Regions from separate parts of the Homo sapiens genome. Here regions 1, 2, 4, 5 and 6 are each reported to be linked to region 3. The links are microRNA targets in miRTarBase. Many come from high-throughput screens and were not tested one by one. Region 3 holds a microRNA gene; each other region holds the end of a gene's coding sequence.

Evidence for each region. The annotated mature microRNA hsa-miR-30a-5p reads UGUAAACAUCCUCGACUGGAAG and lies in region 3 at 2,218-2,239, shown strand. An mRNA with a match to its seed (bases 2 to 7 or 8) in the 3' UTR can be bound and repressed. Matches are read on the target gene's strand: a 7mer-m8 pairs with bases 2 to 8, a 7mer-A1 pairs with bases 2 to 7 and ends in A, and an 8mer does both.
Region 1: miRTarBase lists PRKAR1A as a target of hsa-miR-30a-5p. Seed matches in the 3' UTR shown: 7mer-m8 at 2,751-2,757.
Region 2: the mRNA of UTP11 is a reported target of hsa-miR-30a-5p. The part of its 3' UTR that is shown has no 7-base or 8-base seed match.
Region 4: miRTarBase lists NXT1 as a target of hsa-miR-30a-5p. The part of its 3' UTR that is shown has no 7-base or 8-base seed match.
Region 5: the mRNA of DNAJC2 is a reported target of hsa-miR-30a-5p. The part of its 3' UTR that is shown has no 7-base or 8-base seed match.
Region 6: the mRNA of TUBB3 is a reported target of hsa-miR-30a-5p. The part of its 3' UTR that is shown has no 7-base or 8-base seed match.

The regions. Positions count from the first base shown.
Region 1 is chr17:68,529,667-68,533,755 of GRCh38, forward strand. PRKAR1A (protein kinase cAMP-dependent type I regulatory subunit alpha) reads left to right here. Exons shown (of 11, transcript NM_002734.5): 10 at 254-335; 11 at 611-3,765. The coding sequence ends at 783. Among named protein-coding and RNA genes, the nearest start is that of PRKAR1A, 19 kb to the left of the region's middle.
Region 2 is chr1:38,022,752-38,026,840 of GRCh38, forward strand. It overlaps UTP11 (UTP11 small subunit processome component), which reads left to right. Exons shown (of 8, transcript NM_016037.4): 7 at 1-58; 8 at 794-2,069. The coding sequence ends at 877. Among named protein-coding and RNA genes, the nearest start is that of UTP11, 12 kb to the left of the region's middle. RefSeq lists enhancers at 3,352-3,851, 4,018-4,089.
Region 3 is chr6:71,401,745-71,405,833 of GRCh38, reverse strand. MIR30A (microRNA 30a) reads left to right here and starts at 2,213; the gene lies at 2,213-2,283. RefSeq lists an enhancer at 3,217-3,745.
Region 4 is chr20:23,353,609-23,357,697 of GRCh38, forward strand. NXT1 (nuclear transport factor 2 like export factor 1) reads left to right here. Exons shown (of 2, transcript NM_013248.3): 2 at 373-1,163. The coding sequence starts at 434. The coding sequence ends at 856. It overlaps LINC01431 (long intergenic non-protein coding RNA 1431), which reads right to left. Exons shown (of 3, transcript NR_109884.1): 2 at 3,443-3,529; 3 at 2,986-3,361. Among named protein-coding and RNA genes, the nearest start is that of LINC01431, 2.5 kb to the right of the region's middle. RefSeq lists an enhancer at 3,945-4,034.
Region 5 is chr7:103,308,887-103,312,975 of GRCh38, reverse strand. It overlaps DNAJC2 (DnaJ heat shock protein family (Hsp40) member C2), which reads left to right. Exons shown (of 17, transcript NM_014377.3): 16 at 1-29; 17 at 333-687. The coding sequence ends at 407. PMPCB (peptidase, mitochondrial processing subunit beta) reads right to left here. Exons shown (of 13, transcript NM_004279.3): 8 at 3,881-4,024; 9 at 2,501-2,661; 10 at 1,248-1,333; 11 at 1,080-1,168; 12 at 845-920; 13 at 1-769. The coding sequence ends at 705. Among named protein-coding and RNA genes, the nearest start is that of PMPCB, 13 kb to the right of the region's middle.
Region 6 is chr16:89,935,321-89,939,403 of GRCh38, reverse strand. TUBB3 (tubulin beta 3 class III) reads right to left here. Exons shown (of 4, transcript NM_006086.4): 4 at 3,307-4,083. The coding sequence ends at 3,600. Among named protein-coding and RNA genes, the nearest start is that of DEF8, 11 kb to the left of the region's middle.

The DNA.
Region 1 (4,089 bases), not on the chromosome of region 3:
GGATTTAGCCCTTCATCTACAGTTTGCTAACCCAAGTGTGCACCCTTTAAGCACCTTAGCTTGATACGAAGAACCTCGCTAGCAGGAGATGCTGGTAAAATAGAAATTGAAGCTCATGTGGTGACTAACTTTAAAGTCATTTTTTATCATATGCACACATTTGCAAGGTAGTTAAAATTGCATAGGATGTTTAAGGTGCCACCCTGGGTTTGAGAGTGTGTGTTTGTTTAGCTTTTTGGTGATTTTATTATAGGGGTCAGCTGCTGTGCTACAACGTCGGTCAGAAAATGAAGAGTTTGTTGAAGTGGGAAGATTGGGGCCTTCTGATTATTTTGGTATGTATGAATTCCCTCACAATAAATACATGGTTTCTTTAAGTCACCTCTCAGTGAGATATTGTAGTCTTCCATAATTTTGTCTTCTCCTGAATTTTATTTTCTAACTGCAGTCTTTTTTGGCTCTGAGAGGGAAGGTGTGAGATTTTGATCTTTACTCATTTAATGAAATTACTGATTGTCTCATATCTATTGTCTTCTTTCTCAGAAGTGCACTGCTTTAAGGAAATGTTTTTCATAGAAGTTAGCCTGTTACCCATCTTTGCTTTCTCCAGGTGAAATTGCACTACTGATGAATCGTCCTCGTGCTGCCACAGTTGTTGCTCGTGGCCCCTTGAAGTGCGTTAAGCTGGACCGACCTAGATTTGAACGTGTTCTTGGCCCATGCTCAGACATCCTCAAACGAAACATCCAGCAGTACAACAGTTTTGTGTCACTGTCTGTCTGAAATCTGCCTCCTGTGCCTCCCTTTTCTCCTCTCCCCAATCCATGCTTCACTCATGCAAACTGCTTTATTTTCCCTACTTGCAGCGCCAAGTGGCCACTGGCATCGCAGCTTCCTGTCTGTTTATATATTGAAAGTTGCTTTTATTGCACCATTTTCAATTTGGAGCATTAACTAAATGCTCATACACAGTTAAATAAATAGAAAGAGTTCTATGGAGACTTTGCTGTTACTGCTTCTCTTTGTGCAGTGTTAGTATTCACCCTGGGCAGTGAGTGCCATGCTTTTTGGTGAGGGCAGATCCCAGCACCTATTGAATTACCATAGAGTAATGATGTAACAGTGCAAGATTTTTTTTTTAAGTGACATAATTGTCCAGTTATAAGCGTATTTAGACTGTGGCCATATATGCTGTATTTCTTTGTAGAATAAATGGTTTCTCATTAAACTCTAAAGATTAGGGAAAATGGATATAGAAAATCTTAGTATAGTAGAAAGACATCTGCCTGTAATTAAACTAGTTTAAGGGTGGAAAAATGCCCATTTTTGCTAATTATCAATGGGATATGATTGGTTCAGTTTTTTTTTTTCCAGAGTTGTTGTTTGCCAAGCTAATCTGCCTGGTTTTATTTATATCTTGTTATTAATGTTTCTTCTCCAATTCTGAAATACTTTTGAGTATGGCTATCTATACCTGCCTTTTAAGTTTGAAACTAACTCATAGATTGCAAATATTGGTTAGTATTTAACTACATCTGCCTCGGCTCACAAATTCCGATTAGACCTTTATCCAGCTAGTGCCAAATAATTGATCAGATGCTGAATTGAGAATAAGAATTTGAGGTCTACATTCTTGGTTGTTAATTTAGAGCGTTTGGTTAAAGTATGTCCTTCAGCTGACTCCAGTATAATCTCCTCTGCTCATTAAACTGATTCCAGGAGATTGGATTTGCTGTGACTAGATACAGATGGAGCAAATGTCCTAACAGAGAAATAGAGGTGATGCTGCTAAAGGGAGAAATGCCAGGCGGACAAAGTTCAGTGTCGGGAATTTTCCCCGTGACATTCACTGGGGCATGAGATTTTGGAAGAAGTTTTTTACTTTGGTTTAGTCTTTTTTTCCTTCCTTTTTATTCAGCTAGAATTTCTGGTGGGTTGATGGTAGGGTATAATGTGTCTGTGTTGCTTCAAATTGGTCTGAAAGGCTATCCTGCTGAAAGTCCTGCTTTCCTATCTAGCATTTATTTCTCTGGCAAACTTTTCTTTCTTTTCTTTTTTAAAGTAAACTTGTGTATTGAGTCTTAACTGTATTTCAGTATTTTCCAGCCTTATGTGTTACATTATTCCAATGATACCCAACAGTTTATTTTTATTATTTTTTTAAACAAAATTTCACAGTTCTGTAATGTAGGCACTTTTATTTTCATTGTGATTTATATATAAGGTAATGTAGGGTTATATTTGGGAGTGACTGCAAGCATTTTTCCATCTGTGTGCAACTAACTGACTCTGTTATTGATCCCTTCTCCTGCCCTTTCCCAGGTAATTTAAATTGGTCATGGTAGATTTTTTTCATAGATTTGAAAAACTTTTAGGTTGTTACCAAGTATGAAGTATAAATCTGGGGAAGAGGTTTTATTTACATTTTAGGGTGGGTAAGAAAGCCACCTTGTTACAAATTTTTTAATTTCCAAAATAATCTATATTAAATGAGGGTTTCTGATCTGTACTTTGTGTTTAGCTACCTTTTTATATTTAAAAAATTAAAAATGAAAATTACGTTCTTACAAGCTTAAAGCTTGATTTGATCTTTGTTTAAATGCCAAAATGTACTTAAATGAGTTACTTAGAATGCCATAAAATTGCAGTTTCATGTATGTATATAATCATGCTCATGTATATTTAGTTACGTATAATGCTTTCTGAGTGAGTTTTACTCTTAAATCATTTGGTTAAATCATTTGGCTTGCTGTTTACTCCCTTCTGTAGTTTTTAATTAAAAACTTTAAAGATAAGTCTACATTAAACAATGATCACATCTAAAGCTTTATCTTTGTGTAATCTAAGTATATGTGAGAAATCAGAATTGGCATAATTTGTCTTAGTTGATATTCAAGGCTTTAAAAGTCATTATTCCTGGGCTTGGTAAGTGAATTTATGAGATTTACTGCTCTAGAAAGTATAGATGGCCAAAGGACCGTTTTGTATTGCTTCCTGATTACCAGTCTGATTATACCATGTGTGCTAATATACTTTTTTTGTTATAGATTGTCTTAATGGTAGGTCAAGTAATAAAAAGAGATGAAATAATTTAAATTCTTAAATGAATCAGTTTTTCTTCCCTTTCTCCTTTCCGTCTTTCCTCTCTCTGTCCTTCCCCGAAAGTCTACTCGGGTGGGCAAAAATGAAAAGGGGGAAAGTGAATTATGGGATCGGTGTTTTGAAAGAGCAATGTTTATTTTCAGTGCTTTTCAGTTTGTCAAAGAGTGGATCTCAAAATCTTGCTTAAAGGGTAATTGAGATGTAGCAGATTTATTTACTTAGTCATGGAAAGAAAAAAATTCAGTCAAAAGCTAAAGATTTCCTTTTGATTGAAGACAGATTGGTTCTGTGGCCTTGGAACTTTCCCAGACTTAATGGGGAAACATCATTTCTAGATTAGCATACTCTTTGGTTTAAATTTAATATATACATTTAATGTTACTTAGGGATACTTTTATATTTTGCATATATAAAGCCTCATATATAAAGCCTTATTTCTGATGCTCTTAGATTTCTGAGGAGTGAGATGATTAAGTTGTATTCATTAGTGTATTGGTATTTCTTCACATCCAGTGAAATTGGAGATATGTTGTATGTTAGAAGAGCATTCTTTAAATTGTGTTGCTTTGAACATGTGTACCTTTTCTAGATTCAGTAATCCCTTCCCCCCGTCCTCTGGAGTATGAAACCTTTAGAGTCACAATAAAATGTAACTAAAGAAAATTTCTCTGGGTTGACAGTCCTGGTTATAGTTGAATTCTCTCTAAACAGTGGCCCAAGTAGACTCTTTTTTTTGTTTCTTTTATTTTTTAATGATTTAAATATTGACATTTAAAAATTGAAGTAGCATGTCAGTTTTCTTCATACTACTTTATCTCTAACCACAAATAATAGCTGAACCTTTTGTACTTATGTTAGGCCCTGGCAGTGTATGTTTAGATGGGCTAAGACAACATCAAGAAGCAATGGCTAGATAACCATTTAATTTGTCCCCAAAGGTACGTTTTTATCTGTCTATTTGTCTATTTATCGATCTGTCTATCTAAG
Region 2 (4,089 bases), not on the chromosome of region 3:
ACGAGAGAAGAAATTGTTCGTTATTGCTCAGAAAATTCAAACACGCAAAGATCTTATGGTGAGGAGAGAGAGCCTTAGGCCTCTTTTTTTTTTTTTCCCCCTTTTCTTTCTTGTAAAGGTCTTAACTCAGACTAGATTTCAGCTGTGTGTAAATCAACCCCAGTGAAAATGTCTGCTCCTCAGGGGCAGTGGTTTGAGCCAGTGTCTGTTACTCTGACAGTGTTGAAATGCGCCTTGATTAAGGAGGTAATAAGGGGGTTATTAGTCAGTGCTTTGGAACAGCAAAGGGTAGGATCGGGTAGCATATGAACTTTATAGCTTATGAGCAGCTCCCGTAACATTTAAACAGGTTAACAAAACAGTGCATGTCACTCATTGGTGTTTAAAAATAGACAACATTGTGTAGTTAAATAGCAGAGCTGAGGAATATAAGATGCCTCTTTCATATTCTTATCATTCCTCTAAATGTCAAATTCTTTAGCTTTGTAGATCATTTAGGTCAGCCTTTCTCAACTGGGGTTCCGTGAGAGAATTAAAATTATAATTTTAAATGAAACAACTACTTGAACACCTTTCTTCTCAGTTTTCCTAGGACTGTACACAGCTAGTACTTTCTAGATGCCTAGGGGAGAAGTTAATTCATTGCCTACAGTGGATGCCTTGGGCAGTAGGGCTGTGTCCGTTCTCAACTTTGAGAAGGGCTGAAGCAGGTGCTAATAGGTAGTTTATTAACCTTTCGATTTTACAAAACCATTTCCTTCTCTTTACTGATCACCTTTTTACTCTTTTGTAGGATAAAACTCAGAAAGTGAAGGTGAAGAAAGAAACGGTGAACTCCCCAGCTATTTATAAATTTCAGAGTCGTCGAAAACGTTGACGTGTTATAGATAAGCCTTGTCATTCTGTATCAAAAATCTGTTGTCGTTTTCTAGTAACTTCAAATTCCATTACTCCAAATGGCATGGTTTTCCGGTTTGTAACCATAACTAAATTGTCAGTCTGACATTTAATGTCTTTCTATGGACAACATTAAATCTCCCTCCCTTCTGTAATTGTTTTTGGATTGTGAAATTAGTCTTATTTTTATATACTTAATTTTTTTTTTCTTTGAGATAGGGTCTTTGTTGCCAGGCTGGAAGTGCAGTGTGTGATTATGGCTCACTGCAACTTTGAACTCCTGGGCTCAAGTGATCTTCCTGCATCAGCCTCTTGAGTAGCTGGGACCACAGACATGTGCCACCATGTCTGAGTAATGTTTAAATTTTCTGTAGAGACCAGGTTTTGCCATGTTGGCCAGGCTGGTTTTGAACTCGTGGCCTCAAGCGATCCTCCCACCTTGGCCTCCCAAAGGGCTGGGATTACAGGGATGAGCCACTATGCCCAGCCCATAATTTTTTTTGTTATGAAACATAGGATCTCATTACAGCAGATTTGGAAAGTAGATTAATTCATTCCTAATCCCAGTGCTTATTCAATAATAACAAATATTTATTGCATGCTTAACTGTGCTAGGAGCTAGAGCTGTGGAGGTGGACAATTACTGTGAGTAGTCTAGTTGATTTCCTCCATTTTGTAAAACGAGGCATCACTTTTTGTCCATGTTTTTGTGTTTTATAGTTACAGTAAACAATTTGATGTCCTACTTTTTTTTTTTTTTTTTTTGAGACGGAGTCTCGCTCTGTCGCCCAGGCCGGACTGCGGACTGCAGTGGCGCAATCTCGGCTCACTGCAAGCTCCGCTTCCCGGGTTCACGCCATTCTCCTGCCTCAGCCTCCCGAGTAGCTGGGACTACAGGCGCCCGCCACCGCGCCTGGCTAATTTTTTTTTGTATTTTTTTAGTAGAGACGGGGTTTCACCTTGTTAGCCAGGATGGTCTCGATCTCCTGACCTCATGATCCACCCGCCTCGGCCTCCCAAAGTGCTGGGATTACAGGCGTGAGCCACCGCGCCCGGCCGATGTCCTACTTTTTAATTAAATCATTAGCTCTTTCCCAGTTTGTTACATCACAAAAGTTTTTTACAGTAATATATGCTAGAGTAAACGTTAAAATAAATATTATTTTTAATGATTGCATAGTGTTTTATCTAGTGGATAGACTGATTTTACCCTCACTCATTCTTCTTTTATTGGCTATTCAGGTGGCTTCATAAATTATCCAAGGAGGAATTTTTTTCTCTTACTTAACAGCTGCAGATAGAAACTCTTGGAACAAGGAACCTACGGGAGCACCTCTTCCTTATTGATGAAGCTCAAATCAGTATAGGCCTGGCTGTGTCTCTGTCCTCTGCACTCCATGCCAACTCACAATTCCAAGGCTAGAATAGCTTGGTGCAGACCTTCACTCTGGGAATATGGACCCCTGGGTGTGTTGGCCAGCTTCTTTCTCTTCTCTGGTTCTCTCCTTCCTTTGTTTGCCCATATCAGGATTATAGGCCAAGGACAGTAAGGACAGGACTGAACATGCTTAGAGCAAACATGGGAGAACAGGGAGCGGGGTTCTGGGGGGCTTGCGTAGCCCTTACACCAAGGAGGGAGAACAGCCATGTGTGGATTGTAAGGCTTTAAAAGAAAATTGTTAATGCTTAATAAGTGCCCATGACTGTGAGCTTCCTGTACAAGCCTAGACTAGAAGCCTGTTTCCTCAGGGTGTACCCAGTGGAATTTAAATCAGGGGCCCTGGAAAACAGCAAGAAGGGTCAGGAAACAGAAACCAGTAGGTTTTGCCTTCAGGAAGGAAATGCTTCCCATTGTGTGTATGCACTCCCTTCTGGGGAGGTGCTGAGCTCAGTCAATGCTGAAAGTTTTAGAGACTTGAGGATCAAACCAGGGAAGGGACTCATCATAGTGATACTAGACAGGGGAGTGAGCAGACTAAGCAGCAGTCTGATCCTGGGGTCAAACAGCTGGATGCTGCTGCTCCGTCTCTTGCCCCTGCTGGGTGGGAAAGTGGGGGAGAGGATAGGGAATAGACCTAAATGCCTTCTCACGAACCACACACCCACATGAAGGTAGGCTCGCCTCATGGAATCTCATGTTCACAGATGCACAAGGCACATATAACTCAGGCCTCATAAACAGGTACAGGCATACCTACACACCGTCTGGCACAGGAGCACAAACAGTGACGTTTGAAGAGCCACACTCCCAGGCCAAATGGAGCAGGAAAGTGCATCCTTTTGGTGTACTGTGAGTTCCAGGCTGAAGGTAATCGGAGTGCTGTAAGGGGAGCTGGGTGTTCTGAATTGCTGTTACACTGAGTGCTGTCTCCAAGACTCAAGGATTTTAAGCAAAGAGATTGGCTGTCCCTGTGACTAAGCAAAGACAGGCCCCAGCCCCATGTATTCTGAGAATTGGCCAGGGCTTTGCCGCTTTGGTACTCAGTGGGACCCTAGACTCTTGGCTTGTTGGGGAGGGAAGAGTATTGTTTGCTTAGCCGCCCTTTTTGGCCTAGGGGTGATTTGGGCTGTTGGTGGCATACTGCTCTAGCTGTGCCAAGGGGGCTGTGGGCAGCCTATGGAGCTGGAGGGATTTTCTGAGTCAGGACTTGTTTGGCTCAGGTCTCTTGTACAAACCAAGTCTCCAAACAGCAGTTCTATGGTGATGTGGACCCTTCAGGTCTGTCCAACAGAGAATTCAGTAAGCCTGGCTCAGTCTTAGTCTGTTGCTGCATCCTAGGGCCCTTCCCACCAAAGCAGGAGAGTGTCAAGCCCTAGCTTTATTCTTGAATAAGTTCATCTTTTTCTTTGAGACAGAGTCTTGCTCTGTCACCCAGGCTGGAGTGCAGTGGCGCGATCTTGGTTCACAGCAACCTCCGCCTCCTGGGTTCAAGCGATTCTCTTGCCTCAGCCTCTCTAGTAGCTGGAATTACAGGCGCAGAGACGGGGTTTCGCCATGTTGGCCAGGCTGGTCTCGAACTCCTGATCTCAGGCGATCCACCTCTCCTTGGCTTCTCAAAGTGCTGGGATTACAGGCATGAGCCACTGCTCCTAGCCAATCTTTTTCTGATTTCTAACTGCTTCCTGGTGCCAGGGTGGAAAAGGGCCCAGCAGGTGGAGCTGCTGCCCCTTTGCTGGGATTCCTTCTCAGGG
Region 3 (4,089 bases):
TAGTCTTAAACTTATTTAGCTCAGTCCTTCTAGATCAATGGTTCTCTGCCCTGAAGGTGTAGCAAAATTGTTTGATAGCTTTTGCAAAATTTACATACCCAGCAGCCTCCCCATCAGCTGAATAAGAATTGCAATGTGGATGTGGCAGAGGCAATCAGGTATGTGGGGTTAGAAGAAGCTGTCCTGGTCATTCTGTTGCCACCCTCTCACTTGGAGAATTGCTGATCCAATGAATTCCTTAACATAACTTTGAAAACACAGCGTTTTGCTCAGAACTTCATGAATAAACATCAAATTTTCACTAAACAAAATAATTAAAGACCATAAGATCTTAGTTATAATACTTCATAAATGGAAAAGCACTTTATTGCCTGTATGTATGTGGGCTCCTCTTTTAGCAAGATATGAGCTAGGTGAAGTCTATGTGAAAGCTAAAGCAGATTTATTCCAGTCAGATGCCAGACAATTTTACCAGTTTAACTGAGACTCATTATTACTTAAACTACATGCTTGTTTTTTTGGTTACTGAGTAGTATAGGTCCCACTTGGATCAGCAATTCTCAAAGTGAGAGGGTGGCAATAGAATTATTTAAGTAATTATTTGTTATTTGAGGTTGTTTGCTTAGTATTTACTTGTCACTGTTTTACATGTTATTTAATAATTTACAGTTATTTAAAAGTGGTAAGATTCCAAGGCAAGTAGGGGACCTGTCACTTTGAGAAAAATTTATGGTGGTAAAAATATTTTCTTTTTGTAAAGAGTCACTGATATACAATGTCCCCCCAGGGTGTAAGCCTTGGTATTTATCTATTTTAATTAAAGAGTACTCTGCCTGTCTAGTCGTGGCTAACTTAAAAGAAGTGGGTATCTTGGTGAGAAGTTCACAAGGTTGGTAGCCATAGCTGAGTTTGGTGGATTGACTCAAGCTCTAGTCAGCAGTGGTATATGAATGCCAAGTACTAAGAATTTCTGGAATGTAGAATTGCACAGCACTGATAAAGTTTGCTTTGTTCCCCTGTGTGACTTGACCCATTGAGAAAACTGGTTCCCTAGGAAGTTTTAATAGTTCAAAGTCCTTAGTTAATAAAGAAAAAGGCCACAACATAATTCAGCTTGTTTTCACCTGCTGACTCAAAGATTAACTTTTTTAACCTTAATGGGATAGAGTTACCCTTTGCTTTGAGAAAGTAATTTATGGAGTTCTTCATATTTGTTAGTTTCAGTAAACATGATGCTTTTTGTGTGGATTTTATTTTTGTTTCGGGTTTGAGATCACAAACTACTAAGACTTACACAATTTAAGAACCTTACGGTAACTTCATCTAAAAACAAATCTCAGGGAAAGGCACACCCACTTTTCTGTATCAACTTAATCTTTCACTAGATTCAGAATGGTTTTGAATTACTTCAGGAAAGTAGTGACTGATAGAGCTTAACCTTCAGTTTTCCTCATTTATTTTCATAAGAGAATGGGAGTGGAATTCAAAACATTCAAATTTGGAGTTAATGTGCGTCACTGTTGTGAGTGATAGGTTCTGTGTTTTTCCAGTGGGAAACTTTGATCCACATACTGATATATGCCTGTGTTATACCTCGTTATTCTTTTCTGTTTTTCTCCTGATTGTTGCTTACTCTTTCAAAAATCAGCTGACTGTACAAGTCCTCTCTGGGAGCAGACTTTAGAGCAAAAGTGATCTATAAAAGCAGCATGTAAGTCTTTTTTTTTTTTGTCAGAGTTTATAACTTTCCAAGTAGACCTTTTATATTTTCACGGTAGTCTAAGTTCACTCAACTGCAGTATTTGATGTTAAATGTACGCTTTACGCTGTTAAGATAATTTAGTTTCTGTGTTTGGTCACTTTTGCTTAAAGGATTGTAATTACATAATGCATGTTGAAATCATATTAAGTAACCTGGCCACTTGCCTATTTACTTCTTGTGGCTAACAATAATGAATGAAACCATTTATATATGTTGTTTTAGTATATCACAAAATTTTATAGAAACTAGAAGCTCGGTGATGAATAATAGACATCCATGAGCCTTCTTATTTGTTTTGAATTTGAGACATTTTCTAGAATATTGCTGTTTGAATGAGGCTTCAGTACTTTACAGAATCGTTGCCTGCACATCTTGGAAACACTTGCTGGGATTACTTCTTCAGGTTAACCCAACAGAAGGCTAAAGAAGGTATATTGCTGTTGACAGTGAGCGACTGTAAACATCCTCGACTGGAAGCTGTGAAGCCACAGATGGGCTTTCAGTCGGATGTTTGCAGCTGCCTACTGCCTCGGACTTCAAGGGGCTACTTTAGGAGCAATTATCTTGTTTACTAAAACTGAATACCTTGCTATCTCTTTGATACATTTTTACAAAGCTGAATTAAAATGGTATAAATTAAATCACTTTAAAACCATGTCTGTACATTTTTAGAGGGCTTCAGCAGGGCATTGAGGAGGTGCTCTGTGTATGCATAGAATTTGCAATATCAAAAAGAAAGTATTCGTAAGAGAAATGAGGAAATGTGTTACAGTATTTTTATTTTTTTTAAAAGCGTAGTAGGGCAATATTTCCCAGAAAAATCTATGAAGTGATTTGTTTTGTCCTGCCCTTTCTGCAGTTTCAAAATAGGTGTTTTTTAGACCCATTCACAAAAAAAAAATCCATTAATGAAACCACAATTATTTGGGGGAAAAAAGTAAGATGAAGGGTTAGTTATTTTCACATTACTTGGATTAAACCCCTTTTATTTCCTTATAGGCTTAGTGTTTAAGTAATAAAGTAGCAGCTCTCAGCTTAATAAAGTGTCTAAAACAAACAAATACTGATTCAACTAACTCTATTATTTGAAAAACCTATTCTTGTTTCAGATGATTAGAATAGTATTTTAGGAATTTGTGGATACTGTTTCCATTTGGTTGAACTTTTAACTTAGCTTTATGCAATAACTCATATCTCTTAAAAATAATAAATACATCAAATTCTATCCTAAATATATGAAGACAATTTTAAGATTCAGAATCCTGTAGAAGATTTCTGTGATGGACATAATTTCTAATTTTCCTTTTTTGTAAATGCGTATTTTTCTTATGGCGGATATTTTTAATATTATACACTTAAATAGAAATATTTAAGTGTATAAGAGAAATATTTAAGTGTATAATAGAAATATTAAGGATACACTTATATAGAAACTAGACACTTTAAAAAGATATGAAAGTGATATCTTTTGTCCTCTAAAACACAGTATTTTATAAATATATAGTGTTTCCATTAATGTAAAAGAGTTTCTTTTCCCTGTTTAATACCCATTGATGATGATGATAAAGAAGTGATACTAAAACAGTATGATCATACCACTATTTAAAATAGTAGCATTTCTTCTAATACCTGGGATGGAGAGAAATATGTGTTAGAAATGTCTTTAAGTTTCCCTCATACATAAAGCTATCAAAACTCTATTAGTCATGCTGGGCCATGAGAGGTTCATCAACTGCCACTGAAATGCAAGGGGCTTGGAGAGGCCTCTGCCAGGCCCTGGGTCTGGAACTGAGAATGTGGTCTATTTTAATTGGTAAGCTGAAAACCCCTGGAGCAAATAACTCGGCTGTTTTTCTGGGGTCACCCGACCGTATTTCCTAGGTAAATGACTATAGGTTTGAAGAAATGGTTAAACTTTTCCTAAATCTTTGACCTTCACTTTCTTTAGGTTCTCTTCCTATGTTATTTTATATCCTCTTCCTTACCTTACTGCCCCTAAATTTTCCATTTTTCATTTTTATCTGTTCATTTTGTTCATGTAAATAATTAGTTATGGGAACTTTTTAATTTGTAAAAATTACAGCATTTTTAATTATTTTTAAATCAACAAATACAAACCTCCATAAGCCATTCCGGGTAGTTTCAAAATTAATACCTAGTATTTCTTATGTCTTGTGCCCCACATTTCCACAGTAATAATGTAAACTACTATTTTAAAGTAACATCAACAGTCCAGGCACGGTGGCTTACGCCTGTAATCCCAGCACTTTAGGAGGCTGAGGCAGGTGGATCACTTGAGGTCAGGAGTTTGAGATCAATCTGAACAA
Region 4 (4,089 bases), not on the chromosome of region 3:
GACTGTCACAAAAACAAAATGGCATAGCACAGTCAGCCCAACGTATTTGCAGGTTTCGCCCTGAGGTTGGCTGAATCTGTGGATGCAAAACCCTCAGATATGGAGTGCTGACTATAACTAAATGTTTTTAAACTAAACACTTAAGGTATACTATCTCAGTTTGCCACAGTGGTAATCCCATCTTAACAGTGAGCAAACTGAGTCTTAGTAAAATTAGGCATTTTTAGGCATTGGGTACTATTTGAGCCTACAGTCATTGTTCTGCAGTCTGTAACTATTTTGCCAGTAGTAGAAAAGGAGGAATGTTCCATTGTCAGGGCAGAATGAACTTTGGCATTCACGTGGCTTCTCTTCAACCTTACTTCCCTGCAGCCCCTGGTTCCCCAAGGCAGAGGAAATACCCTGGTGGAGCCCTCCTTCCATAGAACCAGAGATGGCATCTGTGGATTTCAAGACCTATGTGGATCAGGCCTGCAGAGCTGCTGAGGAGTTTGTCAATGTCTACTACACCACCATGGATAAGCGGCGGCGTTTGCTGTCCCGCCTGTACATGGGCACAGCCACCCTGGTCTGGAATGGCAATGCTGTTTCAGGACAAGAATCCTTGAGTGAGTTTTTTGAAATGTTGCCTTCCAGCGAGTTCCAAATCAGCGTGGTAGACTGCCAGCCTGTTCATGATGAAGCCACACCAAGCCAGACCACGGTCCTTGTTGTCATCTGTGGATCAGTGAAGTTTGAGGGGAACAAACAACGGGACTTCAACCAGAACTTCATCCTGACCGCCCAGGCCTCACCCAGCAACACAGTGTGGAAGATCGCAAGTGACTGCTTCCGCTTCCAGGACTGGGCCAGCTAGTGGGGGTGGCAGAGGTCTCTTTGCTTCATTCAGCCCTAGCTCTGTAGAGAAATGCAAACCTCGACTCTCAAGGATGTGAGGAACACAAGTTCATTTCTGTTGTTGCGGAGACACTGCAGACTCCACTGTGCCGAGGTTGAACTCTTTTTTGTTGCTCAAGTTCTAGGAGTCCCTTTCCTGAATATATACTTGTTTGTCATAGTTTCCTTTTCAAAGTAGTAAACTTTTCTATTTTTCTACTTGCCCAGTAGAGACTCTGATTCTGGAAATTCTGACAAATAATTTAATAATACACATGTTGCTTCTTTCCCTGTCTGATGTGTTTGACCAGGTTGTGAGGGAGGAGGAGGGCTAAAGGCAGAAAGCATAATAGGAAGCACCCGCACAGGGGTGAGGATCAGGGCTTAGTACCTACCCCAGGCACCAGTGTGCACATAGTTGGCCCACCTGGAGCTGTGATTCACAGCCCCATGCACACTAGAATCCCTTGGGACACTGAAAATTACCTATGCCAAGGCCATACTCCAGACCCAACCATGCTTGAGTGTGTGTGTGTGTGTGTGTGTGTGTGTGTGTGTGTGTGTGTGTGTGTGGTGGTGGGTAGGGGGGTTGGTTTTGTTCCAGGCTGGAGTGCAGTGGCATAATCTTGGCTCACTGCAACCTCCATCTCCCGGGTTCTAACAATTCTCGTGCCTAAGCCTCCTGAGTAGCTGGGATTGCAGGCACATGCCACCACACCCGGCTAATTGTTTGCCTGAATCTTTGAGGATACGGCTGGGCATGGGCAGTTTCTAAAAGCACCCTAGGTGTCTTTTAGGATACATCACCTTAGGATATAGCAGAATCACCTAACAGATGGCTGGGCCCTACCTTAGCACCTTAGCTGAGAATTAAATGATGAGAACAGATGAAATACTAGAGTTAGCTAATTGCTTATAAATGAAGCCACTATATTAAACTCATTGATAAAGAGAAAGTGAATCAGCACTGATTCTGAGAGGAAGAAGCACTGAAACTAGGATGGAGGACATCAGAACCAGAAGCTGCTGTTACTGATCCTAAAGGCCAAACCCAATTGCATTTCTTCAATGTAAAGAATAGAAAACCCTATAGAAGTTGGACCAATAGATGATGTGCCTGCCATGCTGCAGCTTCCCCAGTTAAGTTGTCTTTGGTAAAAGTGTGCTAGGTTTGGGATAGGGTAGTCAAGATACTGCAATGGGAAATTTTGAGAAGGGTAAGAATCCTGATAAGCACAGTGACACAGGTAGCCGTTTCCTCTTGACACCCCTTCCCTTCTCTATTATCTGAAGCCCAGTGTTTTGAGAGATAAGGGACCCACCTTAAATACTTGACTTTCTCATTCAATTTGTAGCTAGGTCTGACATGTGATTAAGTTCTGGCCAATGAAGTAGGACTGAACTTGGGGGAATTTTCCTTCAACAGACCCTTCTTTCTTTCCCACTCTATCCTGCTGCCTGGAAAGGTTATGCTGACCTGACCACGGGCTCTGGCTCAGTCTTGGCCAAGAGAACAGCTCAGCCATACCCTAGACGTAGGATAGTGCTGAGCTAAAAGGAGCCTAGGTCCCATGTGGAAACACCAAAATAGCCCCAGCTCACTCAACCAAAGACTTCTTTTTAAATGAGAAATCCCATCTTAAGCCATTATCAATTTGGGGTGTGTGACACTGACACACAGCAGTAATCCTAAGTGAGGAAAAGGATTTGAATGGGGCAGACTGTATTCACTACAGGGCCCAGAAGACGCGGGGACGGCCCCAACTACTGCCCTTCAGGTCCGGGCCAGACCCGCAATGGGCAGGATGGGTAGGGTACAGGGCGTGCGTCCCCACCTACACTAGCCTGGTTGCAGGCGGCCTCCAAGGGCACAGCGGGAAGCTCCGCCCTTGCCATGCCCCCGCCACCGGGGAAGGCAAGACAAATGTGCGTGGCACCCTCCTCCTTCGGTTCTGGGACACATCTCCACCAAGCGGCCGTTCGGCAGGTAGGGCCAGATGGTCCCGGCTCGTCCCTGCGGGTGGGGTTTCCCACCGGCGGAAAGCGCAAGCCCCTCCCGTTCTGTCCAGCGCGCTGCCCGCTGCCTTAATTATAAGGCAGATGAAGGTGAAAAGTTTACTGGTTTTTATTTTTGCAACTTTTTGTAAATTTTAAATTATTCTAAAAAGTTTAAGAAATGAATTGTGCTGAGGAGTATAATCAGCACGCAGTGCGAGTTCTTATAGTGGCCACGTCCACAAACCCTGTGTTGTGGAAGAACAGAAGGCGTTCTGCTTTCTGTGTTTCACCGTCTCTCCCTCGCTTTAACTTCCAGGTCCCGGAGTAGTGGTGACAGCAAGGTCTGTTGGTTTCTTTGGTTTAGGTTTGATGAAAGGCCACTCCAGTGGGGTAGGAGGTGGGCAGGGAGAACAGGGGCTAGGGTGGGAGGGGCAGGAGTTGGGTCCTGGGGGTGGAGGAGATGACGGGGAGAGTGGCTTGGAGAAATCTGCAAGAAGAGACATTGGAAGGCCGGGGGAGGTGAAATGGACACTGGGTGAAGCTGAGGAGTCCTAGTGAACCATGTTACCTCTGATCCAGATATTCCCAGAACAACAAGAAATCAAGCTTCTGAATGTGGTCTGTTGCAAGCTTGGAAGGTGCACACCTGTTGCTGCTAATTTGGACAATTTGGGGGAAGAGCAGAGATTTAGATGTTGCTTTGGTCGACCTTAAACACCAGCCCTGTCTCCCCTACCACTTTGCCAAATTAGGGCCCCGTCTCTCTAAAGAGCAAACAGAAAACTGCAGAAAGTTGCTTTGTCCTGTAGACAAGAGGCTGGGACTAGGTAAGAGGAGGGAGCCAGGATGCAAAACTTAAGACCAGCCTGGCCAACAAGGCGAAACCCCGTTTCTACTAAAAATAGAAAAATTAGCTGGGCGTGGTGGCAGGCGCCTGTAATCCCAGCTACTCAGGAAGCTGAGGCAGGACAATCGCTTGAACCCAGGAGGCGGAGGTTGTAGTCAGCCAAGATCGCGCCACTGCATTCCAGTCTGGGCGACAGAGCGAGACTCCGTAACAAAAAACAAACAAACAAACAAAAAATCTTAAACATCACCAACGAGCCTTGTGAGAAATGGTTTAACGTTGTGATACCTTGCCCAATTTTAAGGCAGGTAAAGGTGTGTGTTAAAACTCAACTCTTGAACTGAACCCCAGCTGCCCTTTAGGGCATG
Region 5 (4,089 bases), not on the chromosome of region 3:
CAAAGAAGGACTGCATGAAACGATACAAGGTTGCAGACTTAAGCGTTTATAGATTGTTGTATTTTAAATTGTAGCTTGGGTGATATAGCTCATATTTTATGTCTATTAAGTGGTTAATAATATAGTGCTTATTTCAAAACCAGTAGTTATGGGGTCAATATTATGAGGAAGAAATGAGCAACCTTAGAAACTTTCTAGGCCCTGGCAGATAATGAAATCAGTATATTTAGTACTATCTATCTTAGTTGCTTGAATTCTTTACACCAAACACTAGATTAAAATGTCTGTTTTTAAATCGCAACTTCTTAAATCACACCTTTCTCCCTTCCTAGGAACTTGTCGAGATGGTAAAAGCAAAGAAAGCTGCTCAAGAACAAGTGCTGAATGCAAGTAGAGCCAAGAAATGACAATCTTTGTTGTGTGTGCATTTTTATAATAAAACTGAAAATACTGTAAACATTTTCATTCTTAAAATTATACTCATGGTAATAATTTGAAAGTATGCTGCTTCCAACATAATTTCTCAGAGAACAAAGACTGACCATTAATACAAAACAACCTTCAGAGGGGTAGTCTTTTTATCCTTTGAAAGTATGATACAGTATTTAATTCAAATTTCCAAATGTATATACATGTTCATTTTTATTTTTCTCTAGCTCTGTTTTATAAATACATGTGTTCAAACAATCTTGATTAGGAGCATTTTAATCACGAAGCCAACACATGTTACTGCGTATCTGTTTAAAATCTGGTAGTTGCTTAATGGGACCTAAGGATTAAAAAGAAGAGTTAATTAAAAGTACTTGGCCAACTTTTTGCATAGAAGAAAAGAAGCCAGGCTTACCAACAGCAGCAATAGCTGGACTCCTATTATAAATGTATTTGGTACATACTTCTCGAATTGTCTCAGCATTCACAGCCTGAAATATGGAAGACACTGTCATTCAGCTGTTTGTAGTAAAAACAAAGTCTATACCTGGAACTTTTTAAAACTAAAGCAAGATGAAAGATACATATTCTCAGCTTTTGTAACAAGGATCTTTTTACACATGACCCAATAGTAACTCAGGACTACTTACATCAATTCTTGCTTCAAGCTCAGGGATGGGAATCCTTCTATTATAGCATAACATTTGCCTACCAATATCTTCACAAATTGGAGTTGAACCTGTTTAAAGAGAAGGAAAAATTAACTATTGGAATACAGATCAACCATATGAAAACAGAACCTATATCTTTATTTTTACCATCAAGCTGCAACAACATGTTTGTTTTCAGAAGATTTCTGGCTCGTGCAACCTCACTTTCTGTGACACTTGTACAGAGTCGCATCCTAAAAAACGTGGAAAAACAGTAGTAGTTGGAAAATGTTGTATTTCATGAGTTAATGACCTAAGAATGATGATGCCATCTTCTACACAAAACATACAGGTGATTACAATTTAATTCCAATGCTAAGCAAAAGCTAAAATGATTATTTTCCCCAGTATTAATTTCTCAAAAATGATACATAAACATGCCTAATTACACATTAGCAGACAAAGGCTTTATACAAATGGGCTGATCACATTTTCAGAAATGCTATAAGCATCTTGAGACTTCATGAGTCCTCATCTGTTGGAGTCTGATATGCTATGGGTTAAGTCAGTGGGTCATTCATTGGTTTCTGAAAACAATGAGTAGAGTCTAACTTAAATCTAATTTTTAACAATAATTACATCCTAGTTGACTAGATTTAGAAAGATGTAAACCAATTAAGAATAGTGGAGGAAAGGAACCAGAGCTAAATGTTTTCCAAGAAGCTGCGAGCCTTTCTGCCCATCTATCGACTCAATATACTTTGTTTTCTTTTAGCAGTGGCAACTTCAGATTTACTTTCCCTTCAACCAGATTACTTTCAGAGATATTTTCCAAACAACTTCTAGTTGGCTTTTAAACTTTTAGGATCATCTTTCTGAATTAACCTGCTTCTGAAAGATTAAAACTTTCAGCCAGGTGTGGTGGCTCACGCCTGTAATCCCAGCACTTTGGGAGGCTGAGAAGGGTGGATCTCCTGAGGTCAGGAGTTCAGGACTAGCCTGGTCAACATGGTGAAACCCCATCTCTACTAAAAAATACAAAAAATTAGCCAGGCATCGTGGGCATGGTGGTGCGCCTGTAATCCCAGCTATTCGGGAGGCTGAGGTGGGAGAATGGCTTGAACCTGGGAGGCGGAGGCTGCAGTGAGCCGAGATGGCACAACTACACTCCAGCCTGGGCAACAGAGCAAGACCTCATCTCAAAAAAAAAAAAAAAAAAAAATTCTATAGTATAAATCAGCTTCACATCTTGAGACTTAGGAAAAACCAACTGCAACCTTTGAAAACATGGCAACTACTGTTTATCTAGGTCTCTTAATTAAAAGGTAAAATTACCATAAATCACCATAAAGTATAAATAAAAAACTAGTTTAAAACGAATTAAAGGCAAAATTTAAATTACTTAAAGCTATTTTTCTCACCATTCTTTTTGAACAACATGTAGCATGTCTGCAACAGTGGATGATTCACAAACCATATACAGTCCCCATAATCCTGTATCTGTGTAGGAAGTGTTGAAAGACTGAAAGCTATGGCAAAGATTGCCATGACAAGTGAGCTGGGCCAGCTTGCTAGATAAATTCTGCAAGGAAAAAAAAATTCCAAGAGAATTTTAATTATACATGTCCAAAATACAGAAAGAAAAATGGAGTGTGTGGAAAATAGTGAATATCCTTAGAGGCTGTTTCCTAGTTTTATTCAACATCTCAGTAGTAGAGTTAAAATTCAGTATGACTAAGAATTGTGTTTATTATCTCACTTACCCAGTGCACCCCCTGGAGAAATTCATGTTATAAAAGCAATGAGTCCTTATAATTAATGTAGTAGCTATACCTACTTCTAAAACTAGATGGCTATTATCAACCCAATTTCTAGGACTCTTGGCTACATACGCTTAAAGATTCAAAGTTATATTGCATATGAAGCTTAAGATTATTTAGATGAAATGTATTTTGGAGAAATCTATGAGTAAAGACAAATCTATACAATGTGTTTTGAAATAATTCCAACTTACAAAAAAGTTGCAAAAACAGTACAGAGAATTTCATTTATCTAGATTCCCTGTTATTTTACCATGTTTGCTTTATTCTCTTTATACAAGTTTTTTCAACTGAGTTTTAGATGTGATGCTTCTTGCCCCAAATACTTTAGTATGTACTTGTGAAAAACAAGGAAATTAATGTTCTTACATCACCTTGGTATAGTTCCTCAGTATCTGTGGAGAATTGGTTCCCAGATCCCTGTGGATACCAAAATCCACAGATGCTAGAGCCCTCATGTAATATGGTATATGTAATATTTGCATATAAGCACATTCTCCTGTATACTTTAAATCATCTCTAGATAAATACCCAATCCATGTAAATGCTATGTAAATAGTTGTTATACTATATTGTTTAGGAAGTGACCAAAAAAAAAGTCCATACATGTTTAGTACAGATGCAACCATCCATTTGTTCCCCAAAATTTTCCACCTATGGTTGGTTGAATCCACGGATATGGAACCCACAGATATAGAGGGCCTACTGACTATTAAAATTAGGATATTAACATTGACATAGTACTTCTAGCTAATTCTGTCCTTATTCAAATTTTGCCACTAATAAACTTTGTGGCAAAGAAAAAAAGAAACTTTTTCTGGCCCACATGCAATCCAGGATCAGTTTATATTTTTAAGTCAGAATTCACAGTACAAGACTCTATTCTGCCACTTTAAAAAAGGATTCTTACAAAGAACTTATATTTAAGAAAACATGATAATCTTCCATCTGTTATGGAAAATTTCTTTTAAAATCACTTACCATTCCTCCCCCAAAAGAGCGATCCCAGTTGCCAATCAGCGTGTTTGCAACCATGAGACAGATTGTATCTGGATGTGCCCAACCAACAGCTTCAACAGCTATTGCAAGGTGCGCCAAAGGCATCTTGTCATCCCTCACACGAATCTAGTTAAGATAAAGCAGGAGGACCTCTAGTTAAGATTAACATTATATAACATGCTTATTAACAA
Region 6 (4,083 bases), not on the chromosome of region 3:
GGTTAAGGGGTCCAACGGGAACAACACAGAAGTCCCTTGTGGAGCTGACCCCGTGGAGGAGACACTTGGGGACTAAATGACACATTAGACCTGGGCCAGGTTCTCACCTTCCACTGGCCCCAGACCCACCTCTCACGCCTCCTGGCCCTCCTCTCTGCCTGGAGGCTGACCTGGACGTCCCCTGACTTCCAGCTGAGCTCAGCAAGAGGCTGGAGGGCGGAGGAGAGAGAAGTCAGGGTGCCTGGAGGCCGGGGGACGGAGGAGAGAGAGGTCAGGGTGTTGGCTCCGGGGCTCCCTCTGCTCTGATGGGGTTCTTACCCTTCAGAGACCTCAGCTCAGCCGGGGTGGCCTCTCCTGTAGCTCCAGTTCTCACCAGGGTCCAGCCCTCCCACCCCTTCACCTTCAGTGCTCCAGGACCCCTTAATTAGGCCCATTCCTGCCATTCGACCCTCTTTGTTGACCCCTCCCCTGAAGGCACAGTCTCCTGAAGTGGGTGCTGAGTGCTGCACAGAAAGCAGCTCTGGGAGGAGAGTTCAGAGCACGGGGGGCCAGGAAGGGTCCCCTAGGGTGATGCCGTCGGATATCTGCAGGGAGGACACTCAAGTGGAGGGCATTCCCCGGGCCCCAATGTTCTAGAACATTAGGGACGTGGTGTGGACGGGGCATATATAACAAGAGGATATGAAGGACAGCGTGGCACGGGAGCAGATGCCAAATTGCATGTGAGGAGCGGCCAGGCAGCTGTGGGAGCCCAGTGAGGAGACAATCGCACGGACGGGACGAGGAAGACCCGAGGCAGCAGCAGACATGAGGGGTGCTGGGCTGTGGGCGTGTTCTGAAGGTGCAGCTGGCCAGATTTGCTGTCAAAGCAGATGTGGACCTGAGGGGAAGAAAAGCCCCTGGTTGTGGGCGGCAAGCCATCCAGGTGCCGAGGCAAGAGACCGAGGGCACGAGCTGTTCCAGTATAATAAAATATATAAAACAACAGGAGTTATACTAGATATAGATCATAGACATGATTATATATGAATATCATTAATCATTAGTTATCCGGAGGCCTTACCATCTCCCTGTGATGCTGTGCTTCAGTGGTCACGCTCCTAGTCCACCTTCATGTTCCATCCTGTACACCTGGCTCTGCCTTCCAGATAGCAGTAGCAAATTAGTGAAAGTATAAAAGTCTCTTGATATGCAGAAATAATGGTGTAAGCTGTCTCTCTCTCTCCCTCTCTCTCTCTGCCTTGGCTGCCAGGCAGGGAAGGGCCCCCTGTCCAGTGGACACGTGACCCACGTGACCTCACCTGTCATTGGAGATGACTCACACTCTTTACCCTGCCCCTTTTGCTCTGTATCCAGTAAATAACAGCGCAGCCAGACATTCGGGGCCACTACCGGTCTCCGCGTCTTGCTGGTGGTGGTCCCCCGGGCCCAGCTGCCTTTTCTTTTATCTCTTTGTCTTGTGTCTTTATTTCTACACTCTGTCATCGCCGCACACAGGGAGAGACCCACCGACCCTATGGGGCTGGACCCTATACCTGGTGACCCCGGCTGTTTGCCCTGAGCACCTGGGGTGTCGTGGTTGGCATCACCAACCTGAGGGATGTGGAGAAGCAGGGCTGGGGGTCAGGAGCTCAGCTCCGCATGTGTGGAGTTGCAGGTGCAAGCCAGGCTGTGTTCAGGCAGCCTCCCAGGAACCACACCCCAGAGTCCGCACCACAGGGCTTTTCCCTCCCTGCCTGCATCTGCACTGGCTCTGGTCTTGCTTGAACCCACTGAATATGGGACAGTGATGCCAGGCCTGTGATTGACATGGGTCTGGCACACTTAAGAATCAGTGACGGTGGCTCACGCCTGTAATCCCAGCACTTTGGGAGGCCAAGGTGGGCGGATCCTGAGGTCAGGAGATGGAGACCATCCTGGCTAACATGGTGAAACCCCATCTCTACTAAAAATACAAAAAATTAGCCGGGCATGGTGGCGGGCGCCCGTAGTCCCTGCTACTCAGGAGGCTGAGGCAGGAGAATGGCGTGAACCCGGGAGGCGGAGCTTGCAGTGAGCTGAGATTGCGCCACTGCACTCCAGCCTAGGCGACAGAGCGAGACTCTGTCACAAAGAAAAAAAGAACCGGTGCCATGTAAGACGTGGTTCCAGCCTCCGCCCCACCATGCGAGGGGTCGGCCAGGCAGCCGTGCGGAGGACAACCCCAAGAGTGAGATGTCAGAGCTTGCAGCTGGCCCCTCCCAACATTGTGAGGAGCAGAAGGATCCAGCTAACACGCTGTGTCTAGAGAAAGGATCCCGTGCTGTTTCAGGTAGATTTGGGGTGATTTGTTACACAGCAGCAGCCGGCGGAGGAGACACATCCCCGGCCCCATCCATGTTGGGGGTGTCAGGGCCAGAACTCGAGATGGCGGCCTCTGGGGCCTGCAGCCCTCGCATCTGAAGCTGGGGCCCGCAGTGCACACGGCCTGTCTTCTTCTGCGCCCATTGCCAGGTTGAAGGGTGATTCAAGAAGAAGGGGCCGCTCTCAGGGTACCACTGGGCAGAACCTGGGAGACTGAGGCTGCTGATGCCCCTCAGCTCCAAGGGGCGGGGTGGCAGGGAGGCGACTGTGGAGGGCTGGGCAGTCGGCCTCTCTGGGCTCCAGGCTCTGTCCCTGTAGGAGGATGTGGGGAACCAGGTGAGCGGCTCCTCAGGCCATGCCCTGTGTGGCTGGACACCAAGTATCATGCACCCCAGGAAGGGGCTGCCGGGGGCGGGAGGACTGATACGTCCCTCCCGGCAGCCCAGGCCTGCGTCCTGTGGCCGCATCTCCCTGACCTCAGCAGCCCCTCCCAGGGCCCAGCCCCGAGACACTAAACACACCGTCTTTTTCAGGGAGCACTCGGGGCCCCCTTCCCTACCTCCCTGGTTGTGACCCGAGGCTTCAGGTCTGATGGCAGTTTCCACCGCAGGAGGGACCACCTGCCCCAACTTTCAGCCTACAGACAGGTGGGAGAAAAGTCTGGGGTGCAAGCCGCTCTGTGGGAGGCCAGGGAACGAGTGTGGGGTTATTTCCAAGTCGGGAGGGCTGCATCTTGAGGTCTGGAATGAGGTACTTCCCGTTCCTTCTCCCGGGCTTCCCGTTTCCGGGGTCTCCCCACGGGCTGTGCCTTGAGACACATTCCGGCCCCCAGCGCAGGCCTCTCTCAGCCGCCAGCCTGGGAGAGGATGAGCTCTTCTTGCCTGTCCACCCGGGCCTCCCTGTCAGCCCCTCCACCTACTGGACACAACTTTCCAGAATAAAAGGACATCTCTGGCACCAAGCAAGGGTATCTGACAGCAATAGATTTATTAAGTATCCCCGAAAATATAAACACAAACCAGTAAAAAACAAAACCGTAAAACGTCAGGCCTGGAGCTGCAATAAGACAGAGACAGGAGCAGCTCACACGTGGCCTAGGTGGGGAGGACGAGGCCATAAATACTGCAGGAGGGCGGCAAGGGAGCCCTAGGGCGAGGGGAAAGCAGGGTGTCGGCAGCAAGATGGCTCCGGGGGTTTAGACACTGCTGGCTTCGGCCCCGGCCGCCACCTGCCTCTCACTCCAGCTGCGAGCAGCTTCACTTGGGGCCCTGGGCCTCCGACTCCTCCTCGTCGTCTTCGTACATCTCGCCCTCTTCCTCGGCCGTGGCGTCCTGGTACTGCTGGTACTCGGACACCAGGTCGTTCATGTTGCTCTCGGCCTCGGTGAACTCCATCTCGTCCATGCCCTCGCCCGTGTACCAGTGCAGGAAGGCCTTGCGCCGGAACATGGCCGTGAACTGCTCGGAGATGCGCTTGAACAGCTCCTGGATGGCCGTGCTGTTCCCGATGAAGGTGGAGGACATCTTGAGGCCGCGGGGCGGGATGTCACACACGGCCACCTTCACGTTGTTGGGGATCCACTCCACGAAGTAGCTGCTGTTCTTGCTCTGGATGGCCAGCATCTGCTCGTCCACCTCCTTCATGGACATGCGGCCCCGGAACACGGTGGCCACCGTCAGGTAGCGGCCGTGGCGCGGGTCGCAGGCGGCCATCATGTTCTTGGCATCGAACATCTGCTGG